Linked DNA regions of Homo sapiens. The protein of the gene in region 2 interacts with the protein of the main gene of each other region in a biochemical or structural test. Each region holds a gene or a part of one and is shown on either strand. Other genes may lie near its edges.

Region 1 (3,500 bases), on a different chromosome or scaffold from region 2:
ACATAACCTTGTTTTGAAAAGAAATGATGAGTCTGACCAACATGGTGAAACCCTGTCTCTATTAAAAATACAAAAATTAGCTGGGCATGGTGGCGGTCACCTGTAATCCCAGCTACTCGGGAGGCTGAGGTAGGAGAATGGCTTGAACCCAGGAGGCAGAGGTTGGAGTCAACCGAGATCATGCTACTGCATTCCAGTCTGGGGGACAGAGTGAGACTCCATCTCAAAAAAAAAAAAAAAAAAAAAAGGCAGAATGAGACCCAGTGTCTTTCTGCTGTCTAACTCTGCTAGAGGGAGCAACACTGTGAGGGCCAGAGAAAGAGCTTGATCCAGGTGGACCATCTCACCATGGTCGGGCCCCTTTAGGGCCAGCCGGGTCTGATGATGGGGAAGGATCTCAAGCTTGACCTGGTCAGTGGTGTTGGCCAGGAACTGGGTTGCTTCTGCAAGTGTACAGTACTCCATGCTGGTTCCATCGATGGAGAGGATGTGATCTCCCACATGCAATGCGCCACATCTACGGAAAGGAGAAATACTCGGTAAGAGGCAGTGCCTTCCTCTTTGGAATCTGACTTTCATGTCCTTCATAGTTAAAATTTCACAGTTTTTCATTTACTTAAAATAAAAGAAAAGAAAAGTTTGAGTGTTATAGGAAACACCATCTGCCAAATTTTAAGTACCTTGAATATGAACAAGGAAGTAAAACCTTGTGGAAAATAGAGAAAAATTCAACGAAATGTTTTCTCTTGTCTTTCTTTAAAAAAAAAATCTTATTTTGGAGTGCTTGTGTGGAAAGTTGAGGGAAAGCGAGCAAGAGGAAAGGGAAAAACAGGAAAATGTTTCCCCTGGACTTTTGTCTGTGTTTTTTTGTTCTAGGCTTTTCTATCTATAAACATGAGTGGGTAAATCTTCAGAATCTCAAACATGACTCTCAGAATTGGAATAGGGTCTATTTTATGTGTAAAGAAGAATAACTTGGGGAGATTTCAGTAATACTTCCTTGGAATCCTCACACAAACTCCAAGATCACCAGTTCTTTATTATTATGTTATTCTGGAGTTGAACATGTATTAGTATAAAAGCTCTTGATAATGGTAGAAATTATGCAGGAGTCAAGTGAGTAATAAAACCAGGCCTGCATGGTGAGTCAAGGGGAAAGATGGGGGCAGGGAAGGGGCTAGCTGCTACATCTTGCTGAACTCAAGAGCTGGCTACTGGATGAGTTAAGAAAAGCTAGCGCAGTCGTCAGCATCCCCACATACCAGTCAAGTGAACAGCTCCTTAAACTGGTTACCCCCTGTGGAATGGGAAAAAACAGAGGGAGAAAATTAAAGCATCCTGTGCCATTGAACTGCACAACACCCCTGGATCAATGGCTGTCACTGATAAGGACTGAATGTTGGGTAAGACCACAATGGAGATGTAGACTGACCACTACGGGGGGTTGCTGCAGTTCACTGCACCATGGCTGGAGGTGGAAAGGCAGGTTGAGGGGCACGTGGAGAAGAGGGCTGGAAACATACAGGGGAGACTGGTCATTCAGGTGCAGTATATCTATAAATTCCCAGTGTGAATAGTCTACGTCTCAAGACAAAAGCATTTCAAGTCATATCTTCCAACTAAAAACATAATTCCACATTTTTTGCACTTGGAGTGCTTTAGCTATGGGAGATGAGGTTTTTCTTACCAGGAGCTGTAAAATAATTAATTAGATGGAAAGGTAGTCTTTTTTTATCTTCCCCTTTTACCTTACGAGTATAAAATATTAATTAGAAACATGAAATTTCATTTTTATTGTGGCATTGAAGCGAATGATGTTTTAAGACACCCTCGAAGGTTGTAAAATCCTAAGATTAACATGCTATGAGAGTATAGGACTTTTTAAAAGTATTGTAAAAAATATTTTAAAAAGTATTGTTTTATTTATTTAAGAAACAAAGAAATCAGATTTTATGGTAGCAGGATTTAATTGTCAACAATTCAGGAAAACCCATCACTGCTCTGCATGGGGTTTAAGAAAGATCTACTCAGCTACCCTACATTAAGAACAGGCTAGTGCCCTAGGACACAGTAAGAAAACTTGCTTAGTTGCTTGATTTTTTTTTCTATTGCTAAAGGCCACACCAAACATCTGGATGACGTGAAGTGACATCATGGGGTGGCTGACACATAGGTGAATTTTTAAGCCCTGTAACAGTAACTTGCTTCTGTGTGTGAAACCTGTATAAACTGGCAAGAGAACTGTGTGTGTGTGTGTGTGTATGTGTATATGCATGTGTATATGTGTATTACAAGTGTGTGTACATATGTATGTATATATATTTAAAATTGCACACATGCAATTTTGTAAAGGGGCACTTTCTTTCTTTCTTTCTTTCTTTTTTTTTTTTTGAGATGGAGTTTCACTCTTGTTGCCCAGGCTGGAGTGCAATGGTTCAGCTCACTGCAACCTCTGCCTCGCGAGTTTAAGTGATTCTCATGCCTCAGCCTCCCGAGTAGCTGGGATTACAGGCACCTGCCACCATGACTGGCTAATTTCTTGTATTTTTAGTAGAGATGGGGTTTCACCATGTTGGCCAAGCTGGTCTCGAACTCCTGACCTCAGGTGATTCACCCGCCTCGGCCTCCCAAAGTGTTGGGATTACAGGCGTGAGCCACTGCGCCTGGCGGAAAAGTAGGCACTTTCTACAATACTTACCTGTCTGCAATACTTGCAGATTTGATTTTGTCTATGACAATGACTTGTTTGTTACAGCACATCGAGGTAGTTAGGGCAACCCCAAGGCTGGCACCAGGAGTTTTGGCAACTTCGACTAGTAGTGGCCCGGATGCTGTTGCCACAGAGTCTGTCAAAGAACAAATTTTAGAAAACAAAACAAATAAAACAAATAAGCAAAGAGACAAAAGAAAGAGATGAAGAATATTCAGTTTGGTGTTAGCCTGTTAATTTTATCACTGAAACTTAGATTTCCCTCCATATAATATCCCCACAGCCAATAATAAATTCATAGGGCACCTCTTAACACACCTGTTCCATTCAGCTTGTATTGTGTTAATGTATGTGTAATGTTCATCTCTTCAATGAGATTTTAAGCTTCATGTCACTTGGGATAATATCTTATGTATCTTTATCCCCTCCACAGTGCTTGGCACAATGCCGAGCATATACTAGGTCTCTCAGTAAAGGTTTTTTAAATTAATTACTTAATTCAATAAATATCTTAGCACCTACCAGGAATAAATAGACGGATGGATGAATGAATGGATGAAAGGATGGATATAAAAAAGAAAGGAAGGAAAGAAGAAAGAAAGGAAGGGAGGAAGGGAGGAAGAAAGAAAAGAAGGATGGATGGGTGGATAAATAAAAGAATGACAAGAGGGATGGGAGGATGAATGGATGGGTAGATAGATAATCAGAAGAATGGATGGATGGATGATGTCTCTAGCCAAGTAGTAGGAATGTTACACTAAGTTGAATTTGTAAAGCTTAACTTCATATA
Region 2 (3,500 bases):
GTTAGCCAGGACGGTCTTGATTTCCTGACCTCGTGATCTGCCTGCCTCGGCCTCCCAAAGTGCTGGGATTACAGGTGTGAGCCACTGCGCCCAGCCAAGCTAAGGGATTTTTCTACCTCCAGGCTTAGTTAGAGAAGAATTCTGAAACCTCTGAAGTGATCATTCCACCTTGAGATCCTATGAGATGGCAAGAACTTGAAAACTTGAGTGGGGGTGGGGAGGGAAGAGGAGAAGATGAAGATGAGGAGCTGGGGGGTCTCCACCGTTGCTTGTTCCATCTCATGTAGAGGAGGGGAGTTCTGCAGGCTGTGAGAATGCACCAGGAGGGTGTGCCGGTACTCACCTGGCCCCACAGAAGTTCTCCAATCCCAATGAAGAGACACCACAGCCACTGAGACAGGCTGAGGCTTGTACAACTGAAGGGTTTACCCCCAAATTCCACGATGAAAATCTAGAACAGAGAAAGGGGCAGCCCACCATCAAGGAAATGACTAACAGGCAGCTGGCCCTCCAGCCAAGGCCCCCAAAGCCACATCATCCCACTCCTCAGGATCCTTGGGTACAAGTCCCGATTTGCTTGCAGGGGAAGGGAAAAGAAGAAATCTCAAAGGGGAGACAGACAAAAACAGCCTTTAAGAGCACTCTGATGGGGAGACAGACATAGTTACTGTGACTATGATTAACAGACAATCTGGAGGAGTTAGGGGAGCTGGTGGCTTCTTGTGACTAAAGCCAGTTAGTGACAAGGAGAAGGTACAGTGATGGAGTTAGGAACTGAGGATGAGGTGGGAGGATTGCCTGAACCTGGGAGACTGAGGCTGCACTCCCCCTGGGGGAGGGGGGAAAAGAGAGAGAGAGAGAGAGGCAGAGGGAGAGAGAGAGAGAGAGAGAGAGAGAGAGAGAGAGAGAGATATCTGTCTCAAACGAAAAAAAAAAAAACAAAAAGAAAAAATGGCAGGCGTAATAACACTTTGGGAGGCGGGAGGATTGCTTGAGGCCAGGAGTTTGAGACCAGCCTGAGCAACAGAGTGAGACCCCATCTGTATTTTTAAAATTAAAAAAAAAAAAAAAAAGGAATTGAGGATGGGGACAAATAAAGGGAGGTGCCCTGCTGAGGGATGGGACATGATCAGCTCATAGTCTCATATTGGAGGAGTCCAAGCTGGGCTGACTATGTAATATACATGTACAAATCCCATTACTTCTCTTTCTTTGAGTTGCACAACACTTTTTATCATAAGCCCTTCAGAACAAAGGGCAGGGACAGGGAGAGTCTATACTAGATGTGCATGCACATTTCATATAGGCTGACAGGAGCCATAGAAAGGGACTAGAAGAGAATACTTCTTTTGGTCATTCTGTGAAATTTCTGTGTATTTAGAAAGATCATGAAAGGATTTTAGAAGTATTATTTTATTTCCAGTCAACATGCTGCCCTGCACTGGAGCTCTTGACACAATGGGCTCCAATTCTAGAGCAATATGCAAAAGAAAGCAGATTGGGAATCCCAAAGTGTTCAACTTACAGCTCCAGTCCCCGTAATTCCTTCATTCCTTTTCCTAGGTATGTAGGGAACCCTGGCTCCCAGCTTCTGCCCTTTATCATTCCAGATCTCCTGCCCCAACTGCAGATAGAATCTCACCTGGCAGATGAATGTGCCCAAGACTACAGAGCAGAAGATAATGTTGCGGTAGATGCCTGAAAAGACGTTCTTCTCTCCATGGATCTTTCGGGAGTTGATTTCATTGAAGAGCTGCATCAGCACGAAGGTGTTAAAAACAATGGTATAGTGCTGGCTGGGTGGTGAATGTAGAGGTGCCTTCCTCCCACTATCAATATCAAAGAATTTCTCACCTAGTGGGGAGAGGAGAAGCACTGGAGGTTAAGTGTGGTCTGAACTAAGAGTAAGAATGTGTTGGTACAGATATACTGCTTGCTTATGGCTGGTGTCCATTCTAATTAATCAATATCTGAGCTGCACTAGTTATTTATTTTTTTGACACAGGGTCTCACTCTGTCACCCAGGCTGGAGCGCAGTGGCATGATCATGGCTCACTGCAGCCTGGACCTTCCTGCTCAAGTGATCCTTCCATCTCAGCCTCCCAAATAGCTGGGACTACAGGCGTGCACCACCATGCCTGGCTAATTTTTTGTTGTACTAGTTATTAAACATTTTAAATGTTAGTTCTGGTCTTGACTTATTTTACCTTCTCTCTCAGTTTGCTGCATTGATACTTGCTCTCATGTAGTGCAGCATGGTAGTAAGACTATGTGCGCTGGAGTCAGGCAATCATAGGTTTGAATTTTACTGCAACTATGTACTCATTATGGGACCTGAGGTTAATTTTTTGAATCTGTAAAAAAAGAAATAAGCCAGGCGTGGTGGCTCATGCCTGTAATCCCAGCACTCTGGGGGGCTGAGGTGGGCAGATCACAAGGTCAGGAGATCGAGCCCAGCCTGGCCAACATGATGAAACCCCATCTCTACTAAAAATACAAAAAGTAGCCGGGTGTGGTGGCGCATGCCTGTAATCCCAGCTATTTGGGAGGCTGACGCAGGAAAATCACTTGAACCTGGGAGGCAGACGTTGCAGTGACCCGAGTTAGCGCCACTGCACTCCAGCCTGGGTGACAGAGCGAGACTCTGTCTCCAAAAAGAAAAAAAAAAAAAAAAAAAGAAAGAAAGAAATAATAAAGCCTCCCTTGTGAAATTCTTGAGTACACACAGTACACACTGTACTCAAGAGTACTGTATGAGTACATATAGTAGCATAATGCACCGTGTAGCGGGAGCACAGCAAGCACTGGGAGGTGAAGCTGCGCTTATTCCTGACCTGTGCACTTGCTCTCACGCTACCTTCTTTCTCTGCCCCCACCTCCAACCAGGACCCCAGCTGCTACCCACCCCCAAAGTGGCTCACCCGCAAAGACAAGGATAAAGATGACAATGAGCTGATAGAATGCATGGCCCAAGATGTTCTTCATCATAGTGCGTGAGATCAGAGGCTTATTTCGGCCATAGGGGCGCCGCTTCAACAGAGATTCCGTAGGGGGCTCTGTGGCCAGGGCCAATGAAGCAAAAGTGTCCATGATCAGATTAACCCACAACATCTGCACAGCTTTCAATGGGGAATCCTGGCGGGGAGAAGAACCAGTCCTTTTAGCTTTTCTCTGAAACCAGCCCACCTTTGCCCTGTCGATGGCCCAGCTCCCACGACCCACCTAGACTTGGAATCTGGCCACTTCCTAGCTGAGTGACTGTGAGAAAGCTACTTAACTTCCTTGAGCCTCAAGTTCCTCACCCATAAAATGGGGATAATAATACCTACTTCACAAGGTCATTTTTGAAGAATACAGATAGTGCATATAAATGCTTATTACAGTGGCTGACACATAAGTGCTAAGCTAAGGCCTGTAAGTTACCATCTACATAAGCAGATGAAGACAGCAGACTTAGAAGAGCTAACTCCTGTCCCAATGTCATGGGGAAACGCTGTCTT
Region 3 (3,500 bases), on a different chromosome or scaffold from region 2:
TGAAAAAATGGTGGGCATATAAGAGAAACAAACTCTATGAAGTGATCTTATATTTGATCAAGGCATGATGAAGAAATTATATTTCATCACGTTTGAAGTTTAGAATCACTTCCTCCTCATACTCACCCCTCAAATAAACAGTAAAGTCACCCTCATCATCCTTTTTTCTCCAGTGAGCAGTTTCAAGTGTTTCCCATCTCTCACTGGGAAGAGCTTGAGGAAATGGTGACTATGAAAGCTTGTTTTATATGGGCTGCCTTCCAGTTACCAAAACACTTTTTATTTGTGAAAATAAAAATGACTTTATCCCACACTCTTCTTGACTGTGTATGTAAACTCTATTATCTTCTCTGGCAAGGATGCAATCCTTTTTATGGAAATGGAGACAGCTTTCTTCTTATTTAGATAAGAACCATTTTTGTTTCTGAAAGCATCTTTCTTGTATTGTGACAGGCACAGTATACCTTTGAGTTGTTCCACTAACATTAAGCAAATATGAGGGTTATGGTTTGAGAATGTAAGCTTTGAAAAAGGACAAAGAGCTTCATTAACATACTCTTAGTCAAGAGCAACACTTCGTACTAAAAAATGGACCATTTTGTCTATTTTTGTACAGAAAAATAGAGAAAAATAGATTGTGTTCAGGATTGCATGGAAGGCATTTATTCAGGTGCTGGGAGTTGATCTAAACAACAACTAACGTGCCCTTTAAGCCTAAGATTCAAGTCTAAACTCAGAGAAACAAAACTTAGCTATTTGATGATAGCATGGAAAAATTATTATTATTATTATTTGTGAGACGGAGTCTTACTCTGTTGCCCAGGCTGGAGTGCAGTGGTGCGATCTTGGCTCACTGCAACCTCCACCTCTTGGGTTCAAGTGATTCTCCTGCCTCAGCCTCCCCAGTAGCTGGGACCACAGGCGTGTGCCACCACATCTGGCTAATTTTTTGTATTTCTAGTAGAGACAGGGTTTCACCATGTTGACCAGGCTGGTCTCAAACTCCTGACCTCAGGTGATCCACCTGCCTCGGCCTCCCAAAGTGCTGGGACTACAGGCGTGAGCCACCATGCCCGGCCACATTTTAAAAATCTAGATATTAAAATTTTATATCAACTATTCCTATAACCATATAAGAAAATGTCTCCTTAGCTTAAACCTATTCACAGGGGAAAAAAACCCCCAGAAATAAACATACTAATATTTAATATCTGTGGCTGGGCTTGGATGGTATAGTTTTTTCCCCAATAAGTAAGTGAGAAAGTGTATTTTATTCCAATGTCAAAGGTCACATAACTTACAATAAAAGTTTGACTTGGGTTGAGAAACAAAAACTCAAATTTCATATTGTTCCATGGCCTTTTGCTATTCATCTGCAATGACATCCTGAAGCATGATAATATTAATGGCATTTGTTTCTCTAACTGACACGTATTTGCTGTCCAGAAGATTGCTGTATTTGCAGAGTTGTCATTTTGATAAAAAAGAAAAAGACATCTTTTTTGCACAGCTTTGTATTACTTAGAAAAACAAAAAACCCTATAACCATAGCTTAGCTTTTCTCTCGTCTCAGTCCACAAGTGAAACTCACTGTTTGACTTTTATCAGCACGTTTTGTTCTGGTTTACGCTAAAGGATTTTTGGATAGCAGGAGATACACTGCAATTTAGTTATTTTTGTGTAGGGAATGTCTGTCCTGAAGTACCAAGTTACATAAACTGGCCGTGCAGAAATCTGGCCTAAGAGTCTCATAAGGAGTAGAAATCCTTTGGTTCATTAGTAGAACTGAATTGTTCTTATCTTGGAGCATTTCAAACACCGGCCTCTTGGAGAGGATGTCAGTAAGAATTAGTCATGACGCAAAGTCATGGAATGTTTCAAGGCTCCATCTGACTGGCTGCTATAGCCCTTAACCTAATCTCAACCTTTAAAAAAAAAACAATTTAATCTCCTTTTTCTCATTTGTAGTATTGTAAATATTCATATTTTCTAACCCCCAAATGTAGGACACAAGGGCTAATACATGCTTGACAAGAGGTCAGAGTATTTAAAATTAGGATTATGCCTTAAAATCCCATCCTTAGAATAACCATAGTCATAAATTAATACTCATAGACTTGCAATAGAAGCCTCTGCTAGAGCTACAACTTGGAAAATTACCCTTAAACTCCAATTCTGGAGAGATGTTAGCAAAACGTGGGCTCCCATCCTGGTCTAAACTCACTTTGTGCTTAGTAAATACTTGCTGAATTACTTACATGCTGGGGTGACGGATGCAACCATGATGAAGGATCACTGGGGATTTGGTACTTCGGTCAGATCTATCTAGTTGGCCTCATTTCTTGCATCTCATATTAACGAAATTGGGTTTAAAAATTAGGAGAAATTCTTGCATGGAAAAATAAGTTGCAAAGGATGCAGTGCAATATTGGATGTGTGCTGTGTAGGGAAAAGGAAATGCAGAGTCCCTTCTGGTTGGTCCAGGTAATGATAAGAGGCTGAGTGGTCAATAAGTGCATGTCTATTGACTTTAATTCTTAAAAGCACCATATAGTCTCTTTTTCTCATGTGTCACCTCCAGGTGATAAATTGATGACGGTGGGAGGAAGCAGGTCAGCCTGGGCATCTCTGCAAAAGGCTAGATACAAGTGAGAACTCTACCTCAAGAACTTTCCTTTTTTCTTCCACTATTTTCTTCTAGCAAAGAAAATGTTGACTAGAGGTGTCATTATTCACCAGCCCACCTAGTATGTCAGGGGGAGTCGCCATCAGCATTCAGATCCCTTCTCATTATATTTATTATCTGTGCCATCCATTTTCTTTTGCTCACTTACCCCAAAGAGCAAAAGTCTTACCTAGCCTAAGTATCCCACTCAACTTTCTTTTCTTTTCTTTTTTTTTTTTTTTGAGACAGGGTCTTGCTCTGTCACCCAAGCTGGAGTGCAGTGGTGCAATCACAGCTCACTGCAGCCTCGACATCCTGGGCTCAAGCACTCCTCCCACCTCAGCCTTCTGTGTAGCTGGGACTTACAGGTGTGTACCAACATGCCCTGGTTAATTTTTAAAATTTATAGAAATGGGGTCTCACCATGTTGCCCAGGCTGGTCTCAAACTCCAGGGCTCAAGCAATCTTTTTGCCTCTGCCTCCCAAAGGATTATAGGTGTGAGTCAATGCGCCTGGCCCCACTCAACTTTCAAGATTACTTTCCATGCAACAGCTGAGAGTGATGGCAGAACACCATTTTGAGAACTGGCTCCCAGGACAGGTCCTGGCAATGTTAGAAAATGCACAGCTCATTTTTAGGCCCTCCAGTTCCTTTCATCCATTTGTCAGCTATTTATTGAGCTGTGGGCTATTTATTGAGCTGGAGGGACTCAGAGGGAAGACAACAGCCTCAAGGTTCCTGCCTTCATGAACATATTCTCTGTCCTGCTCACTCCTTTTGGGGCTTATTTTCTCCTACTTTTGCTTTTAGTGGATTTTAGATTCAGACTCTACC
Region 4 (3,500 bases), on a different chromosome or scaffold from region 2:
TCCTCGGAGCCCCGGACGCCCCGTGCCTTCCCAGAGCCTGGCAGCCGGGTGCCCCCCAGCAGACTGGAGTGCCAGCAGGCCTTGTCACACTGGCTGTCAAACCAGGTACCCCGCCGGGCGGGGGAGAGACGGTGCCCAGCCATGGCCCCCCGGGCCCGCAGCGCCTCCCAGGACCGGTTGGAGGAGGTGGCTGCCCCCCGCCCGTGGCCCTGCTCCACCTCCCAGGATGCTTTGAGCCAGCTGGGCCAGGAGGGCTGGCACCGAGCTCGCTCAGATGACTACTTGAGCCGGGCCACCCGTTCTGCCGAGGCACTGGGGCCAGGGGCACTGGTGTCACCCCGCTTTGAGCGGTGTGGCTGGGCTTCCCAGCGTTCGTCTGCCCGCACCCCCGCCTGCCCAACTCGGGACCTGCCAGGGCCCCAGGCCCCACCCCCGTCTGGCCTGCAGGGCCTGGATGACCTCGGGTACATCGGCTACCGGAGCTACAGCCCATCATTCCAGCGCCGGACCGGCCTCCTCCATGCGCTCTCCTTCCGGGACTCACCCTTTGGGGGGCTGCCTACCTTCAACCTGGCCCAGTCCCCTGCGTCATTCCCACCAGAGGCCTCCGAGCCACCCAGGGTTGTACGGCCGGAACCCAGCACCCGGGCCCTGGAGCCTCCTGCGGAGGATCGCGGCGATGAGGTGGTCCTGAGGCAGAAGCCCCCGACGGGCCGCAAGGTTCAGCTGACCCCCGCAAGACAGATGAACCTTGGATTTGGTGACGAGTCCCCAGAGCCAGAGGCCAGTGGGCGAGGGGAACGCCTGGGCAGGAAGGTGGCCCCTTTGGCCACCACCGAAGACTCTCTGGCTTCCATCCCCTTTATTGGTGAGTGATGGTACATGTGGCTGTCCTGGGGGACTTAGCTGTCGGCTGTCTGTGTCCTGCTGTACCCCATCTGCCTGTCTGCCATGGGCAGAATTCGGCTGGGTGCTGGTGGGATCATCTTGTTTCTCTGTCAATTCATTCATCTGTTCATCCATCCATCCATCTGTTCTTCCATCTTTCTTTCTGTTCTCTGTCATCCTTTCTTCCATCCTACCTCTCATTCATTTATCCTTTCAGCATCTTTCCACGCACTCTTTCTTTTTTCCCTCTCCCCATCCATCCATCCATCCATCATCTGTTCTTCCTTCCTTCTTTCCTTCCTCTCTCCCTCCTTTGTTCATTCATTTGTTCCATCCATTCATCCATCTATCCATCCATCTATTCTTCCTTCTTTCCTTCCTCTCTCCCTCCTTCTTTTGTTCATTCATTTGTTCCATCCTTTCTTCCACCCATTCATCCATCTTTCTTTCCTTTGACTCTTCCTTCCATTCTCCCATTCTTCCTTCCATCTTCCCTTTGTATCTTTCCCTCTTTGTCCTTTCCATCCACCCTCCATCCCTCCATCGACTCAACAGATATTTGTGTCAGGCCCTGTGCATGGCTCCATGCTCTCCTGGACTGGATGGCCCAGCAGAGGGTGTTGGACATGCAGGGACAATCCATTGGGATGGGCGTGTCGTGGGACAGGGAGCTTGAGGAGACGGGCTCAGAGAAGGGCTATGGTGAGAATCTTGGAGAAAGAACATTTGGGCTAAGACTTGAAGGATGAGAAGGAGTTTATCAGGGGAAGAATATTCAAGGAGAGGGAATAGAATATGCAAAGACCCTGAAGGGAGAGAGGCAGGACCCCCTTCCAGGTTGTGAGGACCCTTTCAGGCCCAAGGGTCTCATTAGTCACTGGGGTTGGCTTTTGAGAGCAGAGGGAACCCTCTAAGGCTTGCCTTGCCTTCGACTGGATGCAGGAGAGGGAGAGGCAAGAGAGTAGAGTGGCTGGGTGATGCCCAGGTTTCTGGCCGGGCTTGGGGGTGGTGCCTCACCCCCGTGTTGGGAGTGAGAGGGGGACAAAGTTCAGGACTGTTGAATATGAGGTGTCCAAGAGGGAGCAGGATAGACGGGGCTGGGGAGAAAGAGCAAGATGCAGGGTAATGGAGAGGGATGGTGGTAGATGGGAGATGAGCTCACCCTACCAGACAGTGAGAGGGAGGAGGCCTGGGGCAGGGGGAAGACACAGCCCTGGCTCCCCCAGCCAGCCTTCGGTGGAGCAGAGACACAGCCCCTTCTGCTAGTAAGGAAGGCTCTAGGCTGTGGCCGGGAGAGGCAGTCTCTTCTTCCACAGCACAGTCTGTTTGAGGGGGAGATGTCATCTCTGCCCTTGAGGAGCCCCAGCTGATGGGGGAGCTTTTGCCCTTAGGAAGCTCTCAGTCTGATGGGGAAGACACTGCCCCTGCCCTCAGGAGGCTCTTGGTCTGAGAGGGGAGACATAATTCATTCTCTCTGAGTGCCCTCAGTCTGATGAGGGAGACACCGTCCCTGCCCTCAGCAGGCTCCCAGTCTGATGGGGGAATATTGGCTCTGTCCTCTGGAGCCCGGTCTAAGGAGGGTGGCTCAGCCCCACTCCTGAGGGTAAGGATTCCATGGCCACAGTCTGGACAGTGGGCCAGTCATGCTTGACAGTGGGCATGTTGCCAGCAGGACCCTTTGGGATGTGTCTGAGCCTGGAGGCGAGTGGCACGGGGGCTGGCAAGGCTAGGGTGGAGGCAGGCAGGCTCCGCTGTCTGCTGCCTTCACACCTTTCTCCTTCCACATGCATAGATGAGCCCACCAGCCCCAGCATTGACCTCCAAGCCAAGCACGTCCCTGCCTCTGCTGTGGTCTCCAGTGCCATGAACTCAGCCCCTGTCCTGGGCACCAGCCCATCTTCCCCGACCTTCACTTTCACCCTCGGACGCCATTACTCGCAGGACTGCAGTGAGCACTCCCCACACCCCCAGCCCCACCCTCTCCCTCGCTGCCCAGTCCCAGGGGTCTCTGTTGGGCCTGCTGCTTGATGTCTGGCCTCTTCCTCTGGTTTCCGCTTCTCCTGCGGCCCCTTGGGAGAGTCACCTCCTGCCCCTGCCCAGAAGGGAGGGCTCTGGGAAGCCCCTGACCTGCTGCCCCGCTGACCCTGAGGCCCGATGTGGGCGGCTTTGCAGGCAGCATCAAGGCTGGCCGCCGCTCCTCCTACCTGCTGGCCATCACCACGGAGCGCTCCAAGTCCTGCGATGATGGACTCAACACCTTCCGCGACGAGGGCCGGGTTCTGCGGTGAGGCCCTGTCCGGACACGGGGTGGGGTGGCCACAGCCACCGTGGCCAGCTGCTCTGGGGCAGGGCTCTTGGCCCTGGGGGTCCTCTATGCATGGGACAGTGTGCCTCCCCCGCTGGAAGGCTTCTGGGCTTGGGGTTTGGTGGGTGACGAGATAGTGAGGTCCCAGCTTTGCTGCCCACATCCCTCACCCTCGACCCTCGCTTTCCAGGCGCCTGCCAAACCGCATACCCAGCCTGCGGATGCTCCGGAGCTTCTTCACCGACGGGGTGAGAGCTGCAAGTGTGTGTGCGTGCGCAGGAGCGAGGGTGTGGGGAGAGAGGGTGTC
Region 5 (3,500 bases), about 47 Mb from region 2:
GAAGAAACAGGGCGGGAGGAAGAGTCTGGAAGAGGAAGGAGAGCAGACTGAACAGACTTAAGAAAGGGTGAACTCGCTCACCTGACCAGAAATTCCCACCCAGCCTCTCTGGGTGACGGCATCAGCTGTGGAAGAAGACGAGCAGTCTGGCGGGATCCACGGGCCCTGCATCCTCCAGCCAGGGGTTACTGTTGGGGAGGGAGATACATGCTGCAACAATGAGAATGGAAAACATGGCGGGGCTGGGGAGCTCAAAGGGCTTAAGATGCAGTTACTGTGATGGGATTGGTAGAGGGGACAGCATTCTCATTGAGAGCTTGCGTGAGAAATAACCTGGGGTCTTGGGTTTCAGGAGAAATCTCGGGTTTCCTGGCTGGGTCCCTGTTGTTTCCTTCTGCTTAGAATGCTTTTCCTCCTAACGCCACACCTCCTTCACGTCTTCATTCCAGTGTCCTCTTGGCCCAATCTGTTTAATACTGTAGCCAGCACTGTCCAGCCCCTAGCCCCATGCCCTGTTGTTGTTTTCTTCTTTCCGGTGGAAGTTACTGCCTTCTAACAAACTACATAATTGACTGAAGTGTCTTATTTTTGTATGTCCCTCCCCTAGAATGTAAGCTCAACATAGGCAGGGATCTTTTTGTTTTGCTTACTGTTGTATGCCAAGAGCCTGGGACAGTGCTGGCCATGGGAAGTTCTCAGTAAACAACTGTAGAATAAGTCAGTGTTCCCAGCCCCTTGGCTCCAAAGCTGCCCATAGGCTCTCCCATACGTGCCCTCTCCCTTTCCCTGCCTTACAATCTTCTCTCATCCGAAACAGGCACTGGGTCCCAGCAGAGGGTCCAAGGGAAGCACCAGGTCCTGCTAGAGGACCCTGAGCAGGAGGGCAGTGCAGAGGAAGAGGAACTGGGTGTCCTGCCTTGCCCTTCCACATCCCTGGATGGAGAGAACAGGGGCATCAGGACAAGGAACCCCATCCACTTGGCCTTCCCAGGCCCTCTGTTCATGGAAGGGCTCGCTGACTCCGCTCTGGAAGATGGTGAGTGCTTCAAGGCCCTGCCGTCAGCCCCTGGTCCCCAGTCGCACACCCAGTGTGAACTGGCAGGCGCCTGCACCCTCCACCTTCCCGAAGGCTCTTCCTGGTGTGCTTGAGGAGAGATGGATGCGGAGACAGATGTCATTCCCCACCCAACCCCCACCAGCTAGTTGGCCAGAGCCCTCCAGCTTCACCTGTGCCTGAGGTCACCACCTTGGGGTCAGTGGGGCAGTACAACGATCCTTCTGGCGTGGTGTGCAGTCCCATGCTGGGAAGACATCACCCTGTTTCCCCTCCAGTGGAGAACCTGCGACATCTGATCCTGTGGAGCCTGCTGCCAGGTCACACCATGGAAACTCAGGCTGCCCAGGAGCCCGAGGACGACCTGACACCCACACCTTCTGTCATCAGCGTCACCTCTCACCCCTGGGACCCAGGCTCCCCAGGGCAAGCACCCCCTGGGGGTGAAGGGGACAACACCCAGCTTGCAGGGCTGGAGGGGGAACGGCCAGAGCAGGAAGACATGGGTCTCTGTTCTCTGGAACACCTACCCCCAAGGACCAGAAATTCTGGGATATGGGAGTCTCCAGAACTGGACAGGAATCTGGCTGAAGATGCTTCAAGCACAGAGGCAGCAGGAGGTTACAAAGTTGTGAGAAAAGGTAAAATAAATGGGAGTGTCCAGTGGGGAGACAAGCACCCTTGCTAGGTGAGATAAGTCTTCCGAACAGCTGCTTCCTTCCCTATACTCCCCCTGGGTACCGTGTGAGCAGAGACCTACGCTGGGTCCTGGAAGAAGGAGACAACGCCGATATCAGGCAGGCTTTGGAGTTGGACATTCGAGATTCAGAGCTTAGCTCTGCCACTTAATATCTGTGTGGCTTTAGACAAAATTCTGAATCATCTCTGAACTTTGTTTTATAGCACATAAGGACATTTCTTTCTGCCTGGCACAAACCAACTACCAGTACCAGTCTCTGTTAGTGCTCCTCACTGATCTCCTGTTCCCAGGGAAAAGAGCCACTCTTCTCAGGAGCCTCAGGCCGGGAAAGACAGGGCAGGTGCATGCAGCCCCTCACGCCAGGCAACAGCTCCAAGGGCAGTAGAGGTGGCAGCTGGGACTGGAAGGGGTGGAGGACAAAGCTGGGAAGACATTTGGCGAGTGAGGGATGTGGGGAGTGAACAAGGTGGCAGGGAGGGCACCCCGGGTTGGGAAACACCATGGACGGCCTTGAGACAAGAAAAGCCAAGACAAGCTCACAGGGAGGCCAATAGATGAGCCCAGGGAGGAAGGTCCCCACCCCGGGAAGAGTGGGCTGGTCTGAGAGGGTGGCAAGAAAAGTAGAACAAAGCCTGGGGCACACATGGGATGGGGTTCCACGCTAGTGGGCCTGCCCTCCCCTGGGATTCCACTCTGCCTCCCTTCCAGCAGCATTTTTCATTCCATCTGCCCAAGGGCCACCTGTCTCCTGGGTTTCTGGGAACTGACCTTCCTTCTCTGTCTCTCGGTGAATTGGTGGAAAGTTCTCTGCACTGCCTGGGATGTCATCGTGTATGATCTTGTGTTCACCTTGTTCTTCCCATTTTCTCCTCCCCCTGTCCCCACCTCCTGCCCTCTCTCCTTCCTGTTCTCTCTCCCTTCCCTTTCCTTGTGTTTTGGTCTCTCCTCTTCCTGGTGGTGGTGGTGTCGGTGCAGCTGAGGTGGCAGGCAGCAAGGTTGTCCCTGCACTACCAGAGAGTGGCCAGTCAGAGCCTGGGCCACCTGAAGTGGAAGGCGGAACAAAGGCTACGGGTAATAACTTTCTCCTTGGAGCTAAAGACAGGCCAAGACTGGAGTGTGGAACCTGTGAGGGCAGAGTCGGACCCCTGCCCATGGTCACACACACACCCACAAGCTCCCTCAGCTGCCTGGAATGGGGAGGAGGAAGATCTGGCTCTAAAGACGGGGAGATCTGGTTCTAAAGGCTGGCTGTCCATCCAGCCTTAAGAAGCCACCTGTCCAGGCTCCTGTTCAGAATGGCAGGGATAAATGCCTGTGTGCAATTGTGGGAGGGGCAGGGAAGCCTGGCCTGGGGGTGGGGACCTAGTGTCCTTCACCTGATATGCAAGCAGCCACTTCCCCACCTCAGCCGCCGCTCCAGTGTCACTGTGGAAATCGGCTGAAAGAGCCTCCCAGATTCCGCGGTGGTTCTCTGTGCTTCCTGCCTGTCAGGAACCCTCCACGTCCTTCCTCCAGCTCTCTCTGACACCCCTTGGTTGGGTCAAGGGACCTCCAGAGGATCGTGGCATGGATGGAAGAGGGGCAGGGCAGGGCTGTAGTTCATCCAGAGCTGGAGTCAGGCAGGGCAAGAGGGCTGCTGCCTGCTCCTTTCAGAAGAGCCTGAAACCAGCTCACAATCTGTTTACTCAAGGAGGGGGAGCCACTCCAATTTCCCCAAATGAAACACTGCAGCTCTGCCACTTCTCC
Region 6 (4,267 bases), on a different chromosome or scaffold from region 2:
TCATTATTTTAGAAAACAATAAAATTAATCCAATTGATGAAACAGAGAAGGAGATGGGCCTCATCCTAGAAGTGTTCGCCACAGAACACTGGGGTCCTAGGTTGTCTGGGACAGTCCTTTTATGACTCTTGTCCTGGAGTAATGATCAACGGTGCCACCTTTCTCTCTCAATACAGACTCGGTTTAGGGGGCATCATGGCAAGGGGAGGCGAAGGCACGCCGACGCCGAGCTCCTCCAGCTACAGCGGGGACACCAGCAGAAACGTCTCCTCTCCTGCTCCCCTCAGCCCCGATGAAAGCGGCACATGGAGAGGGTGGGAGCCCAGGGGATGACAGATACTGGCTGAAGTGGGGAAAGTTCTAGAAGAAGGAAAGCGGGAGGAAGTCTTGGCTGGTCTAGGATGCATCAGTCAGGAAGACAACTGTTTCTTCCCCTCAGGGCAGGATTTCTCAGCTTTCTACTTAGTGAAGGAGAGTGCAGCATCTTTATAAAATCCCAGTATTTGCCCCCAAATCTCTTACGAAACATCTACTTCAATAGGCATTCGGCCTGAGCCTAGAGGTTCCAAGGCAGATGGAAAATACAGGTGTCCCTAAACAGTCGCCTACAAGGCCTTTCTTTGGGGCCAATGGCCTTGTGATTAAGTTGGTGCCAAAGAGCCAATGACTGAAAAACTAGGGCTTACCGCAGTATAATGTTTGTTTCTAGCAAATGACACTCTGGCACGCTCTCCAGTATCTTACTATATCGAGTTGCCAAGGGGCCACATCTCCAGCTTGCAGCTGAAACCCTGGGAGTTCTGGACAGCCAGGTCTCTGCGGATATCCTGAGGACCAGGACTGGTGGTCAGCCGAGGACTACAGGTTTCTCGGGTGCCTTCCTGGGGCTGGGTCCAGGTGGCAACGACCGGGTCTGGGAGGGTCCTCTAGTTGGATTGTCCCTCTGCCCCTGACTTGCCCGAGCCTCACAAGACTCCTGAGGAGGGTCTGAGGGTGCTGACTGTGCCCTCCCATCAGACTGAACTCAGAAAGCCAGGGCAGCTCAAGCCAAAGCTGCCTCACCAGCAGCTGAAGACAGGGGCTCTGCAGAACTCTCCAGACCCCAGCCAACTGCCCCAGCCAGCTGCCCCTCAGGCTTCTGGAGCCCCCAGAGCCACACTGAACTTCAAGCATCAGTGGGTGGAGCTAAATAGAAGTCACTAGTCCCTTCTGCAGTTGCCATGAAGCAACTTACAGTAGTCTCCAATGGCAGTTAACAATTGCAGGAGTTTCTTTGTAACTTGTCCCAGTGTAAATAAGGGTTAGTCCTAACAGTAAAACAAAACAAAACAAAACAAAAAACCTTAGGGCTGGGCACAGTGGCTCAGGCCTGTAATCCCAGCACTTTGGAGGCCAAGGCAGGAGGATTGCTTGAGCTCAAGAGTTCAAGGCTGCAGTGAGCTATGATTGTGCCACTGCCCTCCAGCCTGGGTGACAGAGCAAGACCCTGGCTCAAAAAAAGGAAAAGAAAGAAAGAGAGAGAGAGAGAAAGAAAGAAAGAAAAGAAGAAAAGAAAGAGAGAGGAAGGAAGGGAAGGAGAGAGAGAAGGAAGGAAGGAAGGAAGGAAGGAAGGAAGGAAGGAAGGGAGGGAGGGAGGGAGGGAGGGAGGGAGGGAGGAAGGGGAGGGGAAGGGGAAGGTGAATGGGAAGGCGCCAGGAGCCGTGGCTCACGCCCGTAATCCCAGCACTTTGGGAGACCAAGATGGGCGGATTACCTGAAGTCAGGAGTTTGAGACCAGCCTAGCCAACGTGACAAAACCCTGTCTCTACTAAAAATAAAAAAATTAACCAGGTGTGGTGGCGTGCACCTATAGTCCCAGCTACTTGGGAGACTGAGGCAGGAGAATCACCTGAACCCAGGAGGCAGAAATTGCAGTGAGCCGAGATTGTGCCACTGCAACTCTAGCCTGGGCGACAGAGGGAGACTTCTGAAAAAGGAGAGAAGAGGGGAGGGGAGGAGAGGGGAGAGGAGGGGAGGGGAGAGGAGGGGAGGGGACGGGAGGGGAGGGGACGGGAGGGGAGGGGAGGGCCCAGAGATCTCTAATTCCAAACTCTGAATCTAACTGTACAGCAATTCTAGAAGAGCCTAAGATCATAAAATCCTGAGCATCTAAGATGTGGGTTCTCCTTATTTGACCCCTCCCAGGTCAACATCCTTCTCCTAACCCAAGTGTCAGTCTCTTCCCTTGCCAGTGAAGTAGGGAAGAAGGCATGTACACATACACACACGCACACGCACACACACACATGTACATACCCCATGGGGGGCAGAGGGTCACAAGCCCAGGAGGAGGGGGCACAGCTCACCTCGGCCCCCCAGTGCCATGACAGGCTGGCTGTGCCTCTGCTACCAACAGCAGCCAGCTGGTCTTGCTCACTTTGTTCTGAACTTAGACACCTTCCTTCTGCTGTCTTTCATCCCACGGCAATAGCGAAGAGATGAGAGTATAAAACAGAGATCCCTTTCATCTAGCATGACCCATGCTGTTTTAAGGCAGAACTCAGCATTCAGAGAATGTTCCAGTGATTGACCCAGCAACACAGACAAGCCGTTTTCTGTTCTCTAGTCCACATACAAGGCAGCTCCTCCACTCCTGATGAGGAAGATGCCGGCCCCTCCCACTCCCCTGGGACCACTCTCGGGCCCCATCAGACCTGTGTCGGCTGAGCCCCTCCGTAGGCTGAGCCCTCCGTAGGCTGACCTGCTCTTCGCCGGATGGACTGCGCGCACTTACCTTCCCCCTCCCAGGGAAGCGAGGACTGAATGTGGCCCAATCTCTGGCTGAACTGAACGGCAGTGGACAAGCAGGTTTGACAGGCACATCCCACAGGAGCAGTGCCTTATATGGGGCTTCTATGAGCCATCGAAGCACCAGTGCAGTCCCACAGCTAGACATTGCCGTAAGAACCACAGGGATGGCTGAGAACAGTCCGTGCATCTGGTCGACCCACAGAAGATGGTGATTGAGGGTGATTGAGGGGAAGGCTTCAGGCTTGGGGGCTGGGAATCCTCTCTCCTTTGTGAACGGTCACCCAGTTCATCATCATTTCTACCCTTGGGAAAATCCTACGAAGATCAGGATAAATTCTAGGGCCTTTCTTGGTTCTCATGATCCATTATTGGAAGTATCTGAATAATTCCAATAGATCCATCTCAAGTTAACATTTCATAACTATTGTTTAGATTTAGATGAAAGTCTTGGTCCTCCACCTTGAGATATGTCTAGAATCCGATCCATTCTCACCACCTGCATTGTGGTGTCCTGATCATGGCCCACCGGGACCTCTGTAATGGCTCCTAACTTCTTCCCACGCCCCCATCACCAGCGCTCAACACAGCAGACAGAGAAGTCCTGCTAGGGCATGAGTCAGCTCCTGTCATTCCCTTCGGTGTACAGGTCCTGGAGTCCTCAGCGTGACCATGAGGCTCTGCTTATCAGGTCCTTGCTGACCTTATCTCTCTTTTACCTGCTCCAGACACACAGCCCAACAGTCTTGACAGTCCAGGCACACTTCTGCCCCAGGGCCTTTGCACCTGCTGTTCCCACTGCCTGGAACACTCTTTCCCATCCCTCCTTCCAGACTCTACTCAAATGCTACTTCCCAGATCATCCTACTTAAGTCCGTAGACCTCCCATCCTGGCCTTCACTCCCCTTCCCTGTTCCATCTTCTCTGTGGGAATACTGCCTTGACCTAACGTGTATTCTAGTTACGTGGCTTCCTGCCAGCCTCCCCACTCCACAGTAACCTACTGAGGACAATAATTCTTGTCTTTCTTGTTCCCTGCTGTGTCCCCACCCCTAGGGCTGTGATATTCCACAAATATTGGTTGAGCGAATGAATAAACATTGGTTAGGGGCTTGGTTCCCAATGATGCAGACACTGAAAGAAGGGAAATTCACAGGTCCATGGCCTGAGAACCTTCAGGATTATCCTGCGGACAATCAAAGATCGGCCTTCAAGGTCATGTAGCTCATGGTGGCTGAGCAGTAGCTCCAACCCAAATCTCCTGGTGATGAGCCGGCTGAAGGCACAGCCAGTTGGGCAGAGCAAGTGAGAACGCAGGCCGAGGCCAGGTGCAGACATGAACTCTCCAACCAGGGTTACAGCCCCACTGGGTGTCAGCTTCCCCTCAGGCAGTTCATTTAAGCCCCTAAGGCTCAGCTCTCTTAGTTTCCTCCAGCAGACCTCATGATAAGCCCTCCCCCACAGTGGGGAAGCTTGCCAG
Region 7 (2,968 bases), about 140 Mb from region 2:
GAGGCCAAGGTGGGCGGATCACGAGGTCAGGAGATTGAGACCATCCTGGCTAACACGGTAAAAAACTCCGTCTCTACTAAAAATACAAAAAATTAGCCAGGCGTGGTGGCGGGCGCCTGTAGTCCCAGCTACTCGGGAGGCTGAGGCAGGAGAATGGTGTGAACCGGCGAGGCAGAGCTTGCAGTGAGCCGAGATTGCACCACTGCATTCCAGCCTGGGCGACAGAGCGAGACTCTGTCTCAAAAAAAAAACAAAAAAAAAGAGTTCGAGACCAGCTTGGCCAACATAGTGAAACTCTGTTTCTACTAAAAATACAAAAATTAGCCGGGCCTGGTGGCAGACGCCTGTAATACCAACTACTTGGGAGGCTGAGGCAGGAGAATCGCTTGAACCTGGGAGGTGGAGTTTGCAGTGAACCGAGATCGCACCATTGCACTCCAGCCTGGGCGACAAGAGTGAAACTCCTTCTCAAAAAAATTTAAAAATTCTTTCCTTGCATTACTAAAAAAGATAAATAGCTTAACATAGTTTTTAAAAAATTAATTTACACAGATATCTGAGATTTACTGAAGCCCTTAAATCTTAGCATGTAAAATTTAATAAAATCAACTTTGCCTAGTAATTCTGATTTTATCCAGTAAAATTACTTGTTTAATTTTGTCTTTAATACAGTTGACACATTACTTTCTTAAAAGATTTGAGTGAAGTTGCAAGTTTTGGGGTTTATTTTTGAGACAGAGTTTACTCTTTTTGCCCAGGCTGAGTGCAATGGGATGATCTCAGCTCACTGCAACCTCCGCCTCCCAGGTTCAAGTGATTCTCCAGCCTCAGCCTCCCAAGTAGCTGGGATTACAGGCATGCGCCATCACATCCAGCTAATTTTTGTATTTTTAGTAGAGACAGGATTTCACCATGTTGGCCAGTCTGATCTTGAACTCCTGATTTCAGGTGATCCTCCTGCCTTGACCACCCAAAGTGCTGGGATTACAGGCATGAGCCACCATGTCCAGCCAGTTGCAAGTTATTAATATTTAGTTTTGATATTTTGCCCACAGTATAGACCTGATTTCGAATACTTTTTTTTTTTTTTTTTTTCCTGAGACAGAGCTCACTCTGTCACCCAGTCTGGAGTGCAGTGGCACTATCTCAGCTCACTCCAACCTCTGCAGGTTCAAGTGATCCTCCTGCCTCAGCCTCCCGAGGAGCTGGGACCACAGGCATAAGCCACCACGCCTGGCTAATTTTTTGTAGAGACAGTTTCACCATGTTGCCCAGGCTGGTCTCAAACTCCTGAGCTCAAGCAATCCTCTCGCCTGAGATTCCCAAAGTGCTGGGATTACAGGCATGAGCCACTGCACCCAGCAGGTTTTGAATATTCTTTATTGCACATTCATTTAGAAATTCCACCATTCTCACGGTTTAGAAAACCTGTCTGATTCCCCAGCACCTCAGGACCTCCAAGCTGCACATGGACACAGATCTCAGGAGCGTTAGTGCCTCCTAGCTCGGCTTCTGATTGAGTCGGTCGAGGGCCAAGTGCCTGTGGGCTTTGGTTGCCCACTGAAGTTTGACCTCATTTAGAGGATTCTTCTGGCACTGACTTTTCAAGGGACTGAAACAGTTACCCCTACAGATGGTGAAACCTCCTGTAAATCATTTTTTAAGGTCTTTTCTTCCCTTACCAGTCCAAAATGTTTCTAGTAATATCGTGGCATTTTTAGATATGCAGCTTTAGAGTGAAAAAACCCTGAAGTTTCACTGGCTTTGTGCCGTTTTGAGGAACTATGCATGACTGAGTATATAATAAAAGTAGTCATTTAGAAACCTATTTAGATGATCAAAGATAAAGTGGAAGGTTTTGAATATATTACAAAATTTTAGAGATGCTACACTCGTATATATTTATATGTAGATAACAGCTTTATTGAGATATAATTCACTTACCATACAATTCACCCATTTAAAGACTACACTTATTTTTGACAGATCACAGTGCTGATAGCTTAATAATGCAATGGGAACTCTGTATAATGGTGGTATTTGCAGTAAGACTAACACCAGATTCAGTTCTATCTGCCTTTTTCTGTATATTACGTTTTCATGAATAGGACATGATATGACATCCAATTCCATTTAATACTAAATAGTGAAATAAGGTTCTACTTGTATTAAAAGCAGTGTATCAGTACATTTCTACTAGTATGTTATTTAGATTATCCATAATTATAGTTACTATTCAACCATTATTATTCAAACAGCATATCTTACTTTTTTCCTAATTTAAAACATTACCTAGAAAAAACTTAATTGGTAGTTTTTAAAGTTACTCTTTTAATATGCACACCAGACAGATGTTAGAGGTTTTAATATCAATTTAATATAAACTGTGTTTTACCCTGGATTAAACTGAAATGTTTCTTGTTTGTAGGGAGCAGCTGCAGATGACGGCCGATTAAAACGAGGGGATCAGATTTTAGCTGTTAATGGCGAGACCCTGGAAGGTGTTACTCATGAGCAAGCAGTCGCCATTCTAAAACACCAGAGAGGGACTGTAACCTTAACTGTGCTGTCATGAGCCTCGGGCCTGATCACAAGATAGATGTTGTTGTTTAGAATATCCACAGGCAGATGAAGTTCTGAGTGGGTATGAAAAGCACCCTCAACTAAAATGCACCTTCATTCTTATTTCTTGCCCTCTCTGCTCAGGAGAAATGGCTGAGGTTTCATGTGAATTTCCCAAATCAACAATCATCTCCTAATGTTTCCCAGTTCCTGTCACCTGTTGGCGAGGTTGATTTCTAAAACTTAAATGAGTCTACCTGTTTTGCATTTAATTTCAGTGTTCCGATTTCTTTTTTTTTTTTTTTTTTTTTTTTTGAGACGGAGTCTCACTCTGTCACCCAGGCTGGAGTGCAATGGCGCAATCTTGGCTCACTGCAACCTCGGCCTCCCAGGTTGGAGCGATTCT

What was found.
Region 1: the proteins of ATP2B4 (region 2) and GRIP1 interact in a test that uses a peptide from one of them, tested with the Homo sapiens proteins (one large-scale study listed by IntAct).
Region 3: the proteins of ATP2B4 (region 2) and PDLIM3 interact in a test that uses a peptide from one of them, tested with the Homo sapiens proteins (one large-scale study listed by IntAct).
Region 4: the proteins of ATP2B4 (region 2) and ARHGAP23 interact in a test that uses a peptide from one of them, tested with the Homo sapiens proteins (one large-scale study listed by IntAct).
Region 5: the proteins of ATP2B4 (region 2) and ARHGEF11 interact in a test that uses a peptide from one of them, tested with the Homo sapiens proteins (one large-scale study listed by IntAct).
Region 6: the proteins of ATP2B4 (region 2) and CARD14 interact in a test that uses a peptide from one of them, tested with the Homo sapiens proteins (one large-scale study listed by IntAct).
Region 7: the proteins of ATP2B4 (region 2) and PATJ interact in a test that uses a peptide from one of them, tested with the Homo sapiens proteins (one large-scale study listed by IntAct).

What each region holds. Positions count from the first base shown.
Region 1 is NC_000012.12:66,462,577-66,466,076, forward strand, and holds part of GRIP1 (glutamate receptor-interacting protein 1), read right to left. Parts: intron 2,847-3,500; coding exon 2,699-2,846; intron 518-2,698; coding exon 348-517; intron 1-347. UniProt on the Homo sapiens protein: May play a role as a localized scaffold for the assembly of a multiprotein signaling complex and as mediator of the trafficking of its binding partners at specific subcellular location in neurons.
Region 2 is NC_000001.11:203,720,832-203,724,331, reverse strand, and holds part of ATP2B4 (plasma membrane calcium-transporting ATPase 4), read right to left. Parts: intron 3,136-3,500; coding exon 2,922-3,135; intron 1,855-2,921; coding exon 1,643-1,854; intron 452-1,642; coding exon 344-451; intron 1-343. UniProt on the Homo sapiens protein: Calcium/calmodulin-regulated and magnesium-dependent enzyme that catalyzes the hydrolysis of ATP coupled with the transport of calcium out of the cell. By regulating sperm cell calcium homeostasis, may play a role in sperm motility.
Region 3 is NC_000004.12:185,518,508-185,522,007, forward strand, and holds part of PDLIM3 (PDZ and LIM domain protein 3), read right to left. Parts: intron 1-3,500. UniProt on the Homo sapiens protein: May play a role in the organization of actin filament arrays within muscle cells.
Region 4 is NC_000017.11:38,466,464-38,469,963, forward strand, and holds part of ARHGAP23 (rho GTPase-activating protein 23), read left to right. Parts: coding exon 1-868; intron 869-2,680; coding exon 2,681-2,836; intron 2,837-3,060; coding exon 3,061-3,172; intron 3,173-3,383; coding exon 3,384-3,441; intron 3,442-3,500.
Region 5 is NC_000001.11:156,937,743-156,941,242, reverse strand, and holds part of ARHGEF11 (rho guanine nucleotide exchange factor 11), read left to right. Parts: intron 1-169; exon of another isoform or gene 170-185; coding exon of another isoform or gene 186-188; intron 189-817; coding exon 818-1,036; intron 1,037-1,332; coding exon 1,333-1,695; intron 1,696-2,729; coding exon 2,730-2,825; intron 2,826-3,500. UniProt on the Homo sapiens protein: May play a role in the regulation of RhoA GTPase by guanine nucleotide-binding alpha-12 (GNA12) and alpha-13 (GNA13). Acts as guanine nucleotide exchange factor (GEF) for RhoA GTPase and may act as GTPase-activating protein (GAP) for GNA12 and GNA13.
Region 6 is NC_000017.11:80,168,563-80,172,829, reverse strand, and holds the start of CARD14 (caspase recruitment domain-containing protein 14), read right to left. Parts: upstream 2,801-4,267; 5' UTR 2,774-2,800; exon of another isoform or gene 2,694-2,773; intron 1-2,693. UniProt on the Homo sapiens protein: Acts as a scaffolding protein that can activate the inflammatory transcription factor NF-kappa-B and p38/JNK MAP kinase signaling pathways.
Region 7 is NC_000001.11:62,158,480-62,161,447, forward strand, and holds part of PATJ (inaD-like protein), read left to right. Parts: intron 1-2,428; coding exon 2,429-2,575; 3' UTR 2,576-2,968.